Homo sapiens: one gene and its partner. The protein of the gene in region 1 purifies or fractionates together with the protein of each later gene. This does not show direct contact. Each region holds a gene or a part of one and is shown on either strand. Other genes may lie near its edges.

Region 1 (4,129 bases):
CAGAAAGAAGGTGGGGACACCGCTTCGCAGGACAGAAGCAATATGGTTTGGCAGATGGAGAGGAGTTCTATCGCAGGAAGGATATAGGGCAGAAACTGGAGAAGGAGTGGTTTTTTTTTTCTTTTGAAGACTGCCTACAGCAGAAAAGTGGGAACGCAAGACGGGTGAGGTGGATAAAGATGACGGTGCCAGGAGAGGCTGGGCAGGGGGGAGGGAGGGACAGCAGGGCAGCAGGGCAGCAGGGCCCAGGAGTGGGAACAGCAGGGCTGAGAACGGATGTGTGAGCCGCGGCTGGGTCGGTCTGGTGACAGTGAGACACCGGCTCCCGGGATTTCACGAGGGTGAGGCCGAGCTTCCAGGCCTAGTAGACGGAACCATGGGGTATTTCCAAACCGCAATGGAGAAGTCGGTCAGGGGAGGGCTCTAGGAGGGGAAATTCTGCCTGTTGTGTTAAATTTAAGATCAGGCAAAAAAAACTCAAGGGCGCCCCAGGAATCAGCCTTCACATCACAAAAGATGCTCAACCAGAGGCTCCCCTGAGCTGGGGAGGAGGGGTCGCTGCTCATCAAGCTGGAGCCAGGGGAGCCCGGAAACCTCTCCCTGCTCTGGGAAAAGCTCGGAAGCAGATGTGCCCCCACCCTCCTGTGGCCGGCCCACGAGGCTTGTCGCCCTCCAGAAGGAGCTGGGGGAAGGTAAGCTTGGAGCAAATCAGGAATGTCTTTACTTCCTCCAAGGACAGTGAAGCTGCAGCAACGATGTCTCTCCCGCCTCCACCCTCTTCAGATCTAAGAGGAAAAATTGGTCATCTCCTGTCTTTGGGGCCCAGGGCTCGCACAAATGCCATCTCCTAGTCCCCAGCCACAGCGGTGATTCAGGCCATTTACTCAGATCCACGTTAATGAGTTTTTTCTGTCACCTAATTAGTTCACAGAGAACTCAGCCTTGAGAGGAAAGAAATAAGAACGGGTTGGGAAAAGGCAGAAGGAAGTCAGACTGGCATGTCACAACAAAAGATAGAACCCAGCACCACATGGGGTCCCCCCAGACCCAGTACTTCTTCCCCGGCTATGGGGACCTCTGAAAGCAGAAAGGGAGGTGTTCAGGTGCACTATCCCCCAGAACCTCAGGCAAGCAGATGAAGCTGGGAGTGGGGCCCTAACCTTAAGGCCCAAGTCAGGGACAGGCCCCTGCCCATAACTCCATGTTATCGCAAAAGGCCTTGGCTCTCACTGCATTTCCACTGAGGCCAAACCCACCACCTGCCGGTGGGCGTCCCCTTTCAAACAGAGCTGGGGGAGGAAGCAGATGGCCCAGGGTGAGGCCCATCTGTCCGTGCCCGCTCGAAGGTCACCATGCCACCGGGGTGCCTGCGGGTGCCTCCAGCACCCACCACACCAGGGCTTGCGAGGCATCTGCCAGCAGCGTGCCACCACTTCCTGTGCCCTCAGCGGTCGAAAGTCCAGGGCCTAAGGGCCCAGAGAAAAAAGCGCTAGGCAGCGCAGTGGCCGGGGGTTTCCGGTCCCCGACTCCGGGTGCGGTGTCCCTGGCGGTCGGTCAGCACCCGGCTGCCCAGCAGCTGCCTCCAGACCGAGGAGCCGCGGATCCCCGTCAGGCTCATGACCCGGCCAAAGCGCGGATGGACCTGCCGGCGCCTCCCACGCGGTCGCTGAGCCTCAGCCCAGCGCCAGGCCCGGCCCGCTCCCGCTTGGCCGCCGCGGCGTAGGGGGTGTGCGTCGGGAGAGGGCGCCGCGGCGAGCGCCACCCTCCGGGCCTGCGGGCGCTGGGCCCGGGAAGGCTGCCATCCACTAACGCGAGGCTCCGATCCCCCGCCCCACTGCGGAGCAGGGCCCGGGCAGCGGCTAAGAAGCCTCCCCGGTCACGACCCCACCTCCCCGCAGCTGAAGCCCTCTGCCGCGCCCACCTTCCCCGGCCAGGCCTGGACAGATCTGGTCCCGGCCCCCCCAAGCGACACCACCTTCGCGCCCTGGAACACAGTCAGCAGAAAACCCCCAACCCCAAAGTGTCCCCGAACGAGATATGGCGAAGCTGCCCGCCGGTTCTGCAACACAGATCGGCAAACCTCGTGGCCTGGTCCTCAAGCGCGCAAGGACCCCCGACAGGGAGAGCATGGCCAGGCACGGCCTGTGGAGCCCTCGGCCGGCGCCGGAGAGGCCACTGCGCCCCGGCTCCCGCAGCCCCCGGCTCCGCTCACCCTCGATGGAGATGACGTGCTCCCGGATCTGGTTCTGCAGCGCCAAATCCTCGATGCGCTCGATCAGGTCGTAGATGGCGTAGATATTGGGATGCACGGACTCGAAGCGCTGGATCTCGGCCCGGATGGCCGCGGAGTTGGAGAGCGCGAACTGCTGGGGGGGCCCGCCGGCCAGCTGCTGCGAGGGGCCGCCGCCGCCCCCGGCCCCGGGCCCCGCGCCGCCGAACTGCCCGCCGCAGACGAGCTGCTGCGCGGCAGCGCCGCCGCCCCCCGGAGCCGCCAGGCTCTGCTGCTGCTGCGGGCTCTGCCCCCCGCCCGCCTGGAAGTTCATGGCTTCGGAGCCGTGGGGCCCGAGGCGGGCCCGGGGCGGCGCGGCGGAGGCGGCGGCGGCGGCGGCGGCGGCAGCGGCGAGCGGGAGCGCGGGGCTGGCGGGGCCGGGACTACTGGGCTGGCGGCGCGGGGCTAGCGCATGGAGCCGGGGGCCGGGGGCCGGAGGCCGAGGCCAGGAGGCGCCGCCGCGCACGCTGTGGCCGCCGCTGCCGAGCGCTTCCCAGCGCCGTGATCCCGCTGCCTCGGAGCAGCCTCCAGCGGCAACAACAACGGGACCGGGAGCGCGCGGCCCAGGCCCTCCCCCCGCGTCATGCGCACGCACCGCCGCCCCCGCCGGCTCCGGCACACGCAGCCCGAGCCCCCCTCCCCGCCGCCCCCGCCCCTCCTGCGCGCCGGCCCGGGCGCCCCCGCCCCTCGCTCGCTCGCTGGCTCTGCAGCCTCCACCCCCGAGCCGCGCGCTCCAGCCCTGGCGCCCCGGCCCCTCCCACTCAGCCTCGGCCCTTCCGCCTCCTCACCAGCCCCCACCCGCATTGCCTCGAGGGCCACCCTCGCGGAGGGGACAGCTGCCCTGGTCTCCTCCCGCGCCCGGCTGTCGCTTTCGCCTCCCTGCGCTGATCTGGGCGGGGTGTCGGATCTCTAGGCAATGCCCAAACAGTGCCCTGCGCCTGAGGGTGCTGCTGACCGAGGCTGATTGGCCGAGGAGTCCGCCCAGGCCCAGCTGCTCCTCGCTTACAGCGTCCCGCCTTCAGTGCGGCATAGGCTCCCCTGTCCCCAGGCTCCGAGGTCAGCCCTAGAGACCACCCTGCTGCCGGAGTTTTCTCCCTGTCTCCCTGCCCAGGCTCTCCACTGCCGGCTGCAGCAGTGCTCTCCTAAAAGACCCTCCCCCTGCCGGACTTGGGAGATTAGCTAAATGCTACCCGACCCCATTGGTACATAGAGGAAGAAGAGGGAGGGATGAAATAGTATATGCCTTTCTCCCCTACTCATCCCATTGGAGAGACCAACCAAAGCCCACGTGGCTCTCAATTTTTCTTGTCCTCACCCCTTGTCCATCCTGTCCTTTCACTCCCTCTAGGGCCAGGGAGCTCCCTGAAATGTCCCAGTTCCTCTGCAGTCCCATTGCCAAAGTGGGCTGCAGTTCTGTTAGCCCCCTCCCCCCCACCAACACACACACGTTTCCTAAAACCTACAAGAGGTGACATTTGCAGAGGCCGCAGCCAATAAATCTGCCAGAGATGTTGCAGGGTATCTGCTACCCCCAGATATCCTAGGGCATCAGTGACACACATCGTCCTTCTTACGCACACTTCCACTTCCCTGGCCAAGCTGGATCTTTTCCCAGCATGAAGCTGTCCACTGTTTGATTACCCACACAACTCAGCCCCAGAACCAACCCAGTCACTATTCCCGAGTTCCTTGTACCTTCCAAAGCACCTGGTGCAAGCTAATCAACACACAGGGTCTCCTAAGCTCCTGAGGAACCTGTGTTTCTATCTCCCTGCATAAGCTTAAGGATATCTTGTGCCCTCTCTGGGTTTCATCTGCGAAATATAGTGGTTGAACATAAAACCTAGTTCTGATGTTGTA
Region 2 (3,561 bases), on another chromosome or scaffold:
ATACAAAACTTTTTAATGAATCCATTTAGTAACATTATTCCCTTCTGATAATTAGCAAACAATAGGATAAGGAAGTAGCTGTGTATCTACAAACACATGAGTAATTAGTGGTACAAACAAAATTATAATCCAACCCTTCTTTATTTATTTGCACTTGATCTATTAAAATCTTTGCTATCCACTCAAATTTTGTGCTTTTATAGGTGGATAATAGAACATGGCAAGTTGAGATTCCCAGTTTTATTTCCGGCTTTGCAATATTTTCACTGGGGTTTGGGCTTATAATTTCCATTCTCCAAAACTTCACTTCTTCTCTTGTTAAAACAGAATGGTAATTTCTGCCCCTTCCTTTCCTCCTTTGCCAGGGTGATGGTTGTGGTTAGAAGCACACTGGGCTCCTCAGAGAAAGATGCTTTGGGAGCATTAGAACAATTCAGCATCTCCTTCTGAGATGCATTGAGAGTCATGCAAAGAGGCCAGCAGGCCACGGGTAGCTCTGCCAATGCATGGGGCATCTTGCAGCCAAAGTGGGTACAAACAGGTGGGCACAAACAAGACACAAGATTTATTGGGTTTCCCAAGGGCCCTGTGGGAATCCAGTCTAGAGCCAAAGTCTAGAGTCCCTCTGCGCCATACTTCTTTGCTCTGGGTCTAGGCCAGTTAGGAGATTTGAAAGATCTAGTGGAGCCAAGAATGAATTAGCTTCCAATTCTCTGGGGAAGAATAGGTTGGGTCCTTTTGCAATAGGCTTTGGCTTTCTGGACTTCTCTTTCATTGCACTTATCATATTTTGTTGTAAGTGATAATTTAATGTCCTTTTTCTCCATTAGACTCTAAACTCTGAGAGGTCAACCTGTAGCACAGTATCTGGTACATAGTAGATGTTCACTGAAGATTTACTGAATGGATGGGTGAAAGAATGAATGAATGAATGAGGCTTCATCTTCGCCATATATACCATCACAGTATCCCAGAGCAGCCATCTTCATGATCCCTTGGCCTAAGAGTTTTAAGTTCCACTTTGCTTCCCAAAACCCTTTGCACCTTCAGATCTACCAGGATCAAGTCAGTCTTTTAAAAAAATACCAGGTAGTCTTCTGGGAGTGAGGGCCTTGCATCCTCCTGTGTGTTGACATGAGGAGTTATTCAGGAGATCCACTTGCCCATCCTGTGCAGCAGTGAAGCTGGAGGAAACCTTGGTGGCACTCCCTGGGGCCAGTATTTGTTAATCCCTATTTTATATTCCCTGCTCTGATTTCTTCCAGGCCCAGATAATAAGAGGATGGCCAGGAATGTCTTGAAATATGAAAGGCTCTTGGCAGAGAGCCCCAACCACGTGGTAGCTGAGGCTGTCATCCAGAGGCCCAATATACCCCACCTGCAGACCAGAGACACCTACGAGGGGCTATGTCAGACCCTGGGTTCCCAGGTAGGATTCCTCAGGGAAAGAGAAAGGGGGAGAGGCCTGGCTAGAGTTTGAGAAGCTAGAATTGGGATAACATGAGGGGATAGAGCTGATGCATTAAAAACAATAAAGCTCACTTGGGCAGCATCAGAGTGACCACATTCTGTATCTCTTGCATTCCAATTTTTTTATGCCATAGTTCCCCTAAGTTGAGTTTTGCTCCTAGACCCTTCTTCTCTTATGCTCATCCTATTCTTTCCTTCCAGCCCACTCTCTACCAGATCCCTAGCCTCTACTGTTCCTATGAGACCAATTCCAACGCCTACCTGCTGCTCCAGCCCATCCGGAAGGAGGTCATCCACCTGGAGCCCTACATTGCTCTCTACCATGACTTCGTCAGTGACTCAGAGGCTCAGAAAATTAGAGAACTTGCAGAACCATGGGTGAGTGTCCTGAGAACCCGCCAAGAATTTCTCTTTCATCTTCACATGCCTGGAGTTCAGGAGTGTAAGAATAGGCAACCTGAACAACTAGACACCTCAAAGAGCCAAGGAGTTCAGAATGCCAACCATTCCATAAAACTAGTCCATGGTGGAAAAAAATCACAATAGTGCTTGCCTCTAGAGGGAAAGGATTAACTGGATGATGTACAAGAGGATTCTCTGGGGTATTGAAAATGTGCTCTCAATATCTTGTTAGGGACGTGGTACATGTGGCTGTATGCATTTGTCAAAACTCACCAAATGGTCCACTTGAGACCTGTGTATATCATTGTATGTAAGTTTAACCTAAAAAAAGACAAATAAAAAAGAACACTTCAAAAGTGTCAACCATTCTATGTAATTGGTAGAGGTGGGGAAAAGGGTGAAATGACAGCGGCAAGGAGTAAAATCCTAGCACAAATTTACAGAGTTAGAGTAGAAAGCTAAACTTCATTATTTTGTTAAAAAGGAAACCGAGGCCCAGAGAGGGGAAGGGACTTGTTAAGCTCATACATGTAGCTAGAGCCACAGCTAGAACTTAGAGGTACAGTAGTCCCCCTTATTTGCAATTTTACTTTCTGTGGTTTCAGTTATTCTCAGTGTAGTACAATAAGATATTTTGAGAGAGAGAGGTCATTTTCCCATAATTTTATTACAGTATATTATTATTATTATATTTTATTGTTAATCTCTGTGCCTCATTTATGAATTATAAATTATAACATATAATTATAAATTAAACTTTGTAATTCAGTTACAATCATTATTATAATTTCGTTATAAAAAGAACCAAAGGAGGCCAGAATGATCAGGGCTAGCGGGCCCAACGAAGGTGCAGGGCTTCAACTGAGTCTCCAAAGATGGGCAGAATGTGGCGAGAAGTGTTGAGTGAGTGTGCTTTGGGAAAGGGACAGTGACTAGGAAGCAGATATTCAACACAAGCCACTGAGGCATCTGTCTTCAGTTTCCATGGGGGAGCCACTACCATGTGAGCCCAGGGCTGATTCCTGGGAGAGCCACAAACCAGACAGGCATCAGCAGCCCCAGAGAGATGCTTCTAGGGGAAGGAAGTGTGCCAAGGTCTGTGCATGCCAAATGGACGACACGGCCATGAATGACTAAATAGACATCTCTGGGTGGGTCACTTCTCCCATTACCATGGCAACAGGGCTGTTTTAAGGAAAAATTTAGTTATAATGTAATTATGATTATAATTAAATTACAATCATGATTAAATTAAATTACAATCATGATTAGATTAAATTTTGATTGAAGCCATCCCACTGTCTTCACTTGGAGACCCAGCCTGACAGAGCAGCCTCTGTATGGGACATTGCCAGTCTCATGGAAGAGGAAAAAGACAAATGGCAAACATGAGCTGGTTCATAAAGCTTCTGCATGGAAGTGCCAGATGTTACTTCCACCCATGTTTCACTGGTCAGAGCAAAGCATGTGGGCACTACTGCAGTTAACAGCAAGGTTCTAATTCTTCCACAGGGAAAGCACTGCAAGTCACCAAGCCAAGCTGGATGTCAATGGGAAGAGGACATTTAATCCTCCCCCTAGGAAGTGTGCTAAATATTAACAAGAAAAAATGCACCTCTATAAGCATGTTGCCTCTTTAAAGATATTGTCTCAGAATTATTTCTGTCAAGCCAGACATTGTGCCCTTAA

The links. Proteins that work in one complex are often made in the same cells at the same time.
Region 2: the proteins of AGAP3 (region 1) and P4HA3 purify together in Homo sapiens (co-immunoprecipitation; one large-scale study listed by IntAct). This does not show direct contact.

The regions. Positions count from the first base shown.
Region 1 is NC_000007.14:151,085,156-151,089,284, reverse strand, and holds the start of AGAP3 (arf-GAP with GTPase, ANK repeat and PH domain-containing protein 3), read right to left. Parts: upstream 2,811-4,129; 5' UTR 2,544-2,810; coding exon 2,213-2,543; intron 283-2,212; exon of another isoform or gene 1-282. UniProt on the Homo sapiens protein: GTPase-activating protein for the ADP ribosylation factor family. GTPase which may be involved in the degradation of expanded polyglutamine proteins through the ubiquitin-proteasome pathway.
Region 2 is NC_000011.10:74,284,096-74,287,656, reverse strand, and holds part of P4HA3 (prolyl 4-hydroxylase subunit alpha-3 isoform 1 precursor), read left to right. Parts: intron 1-1,265; coding exon 1,266-1,429; intron 1,430-1,671; coding exon 1,672-1,848; intron 1,849-3,561. UniProt on the Homo sapiens protein: Catalyzes the post-translational formation of 4-hydroxyproline in -Xaa-Pro-Gly- sequences in collagens and other proteins.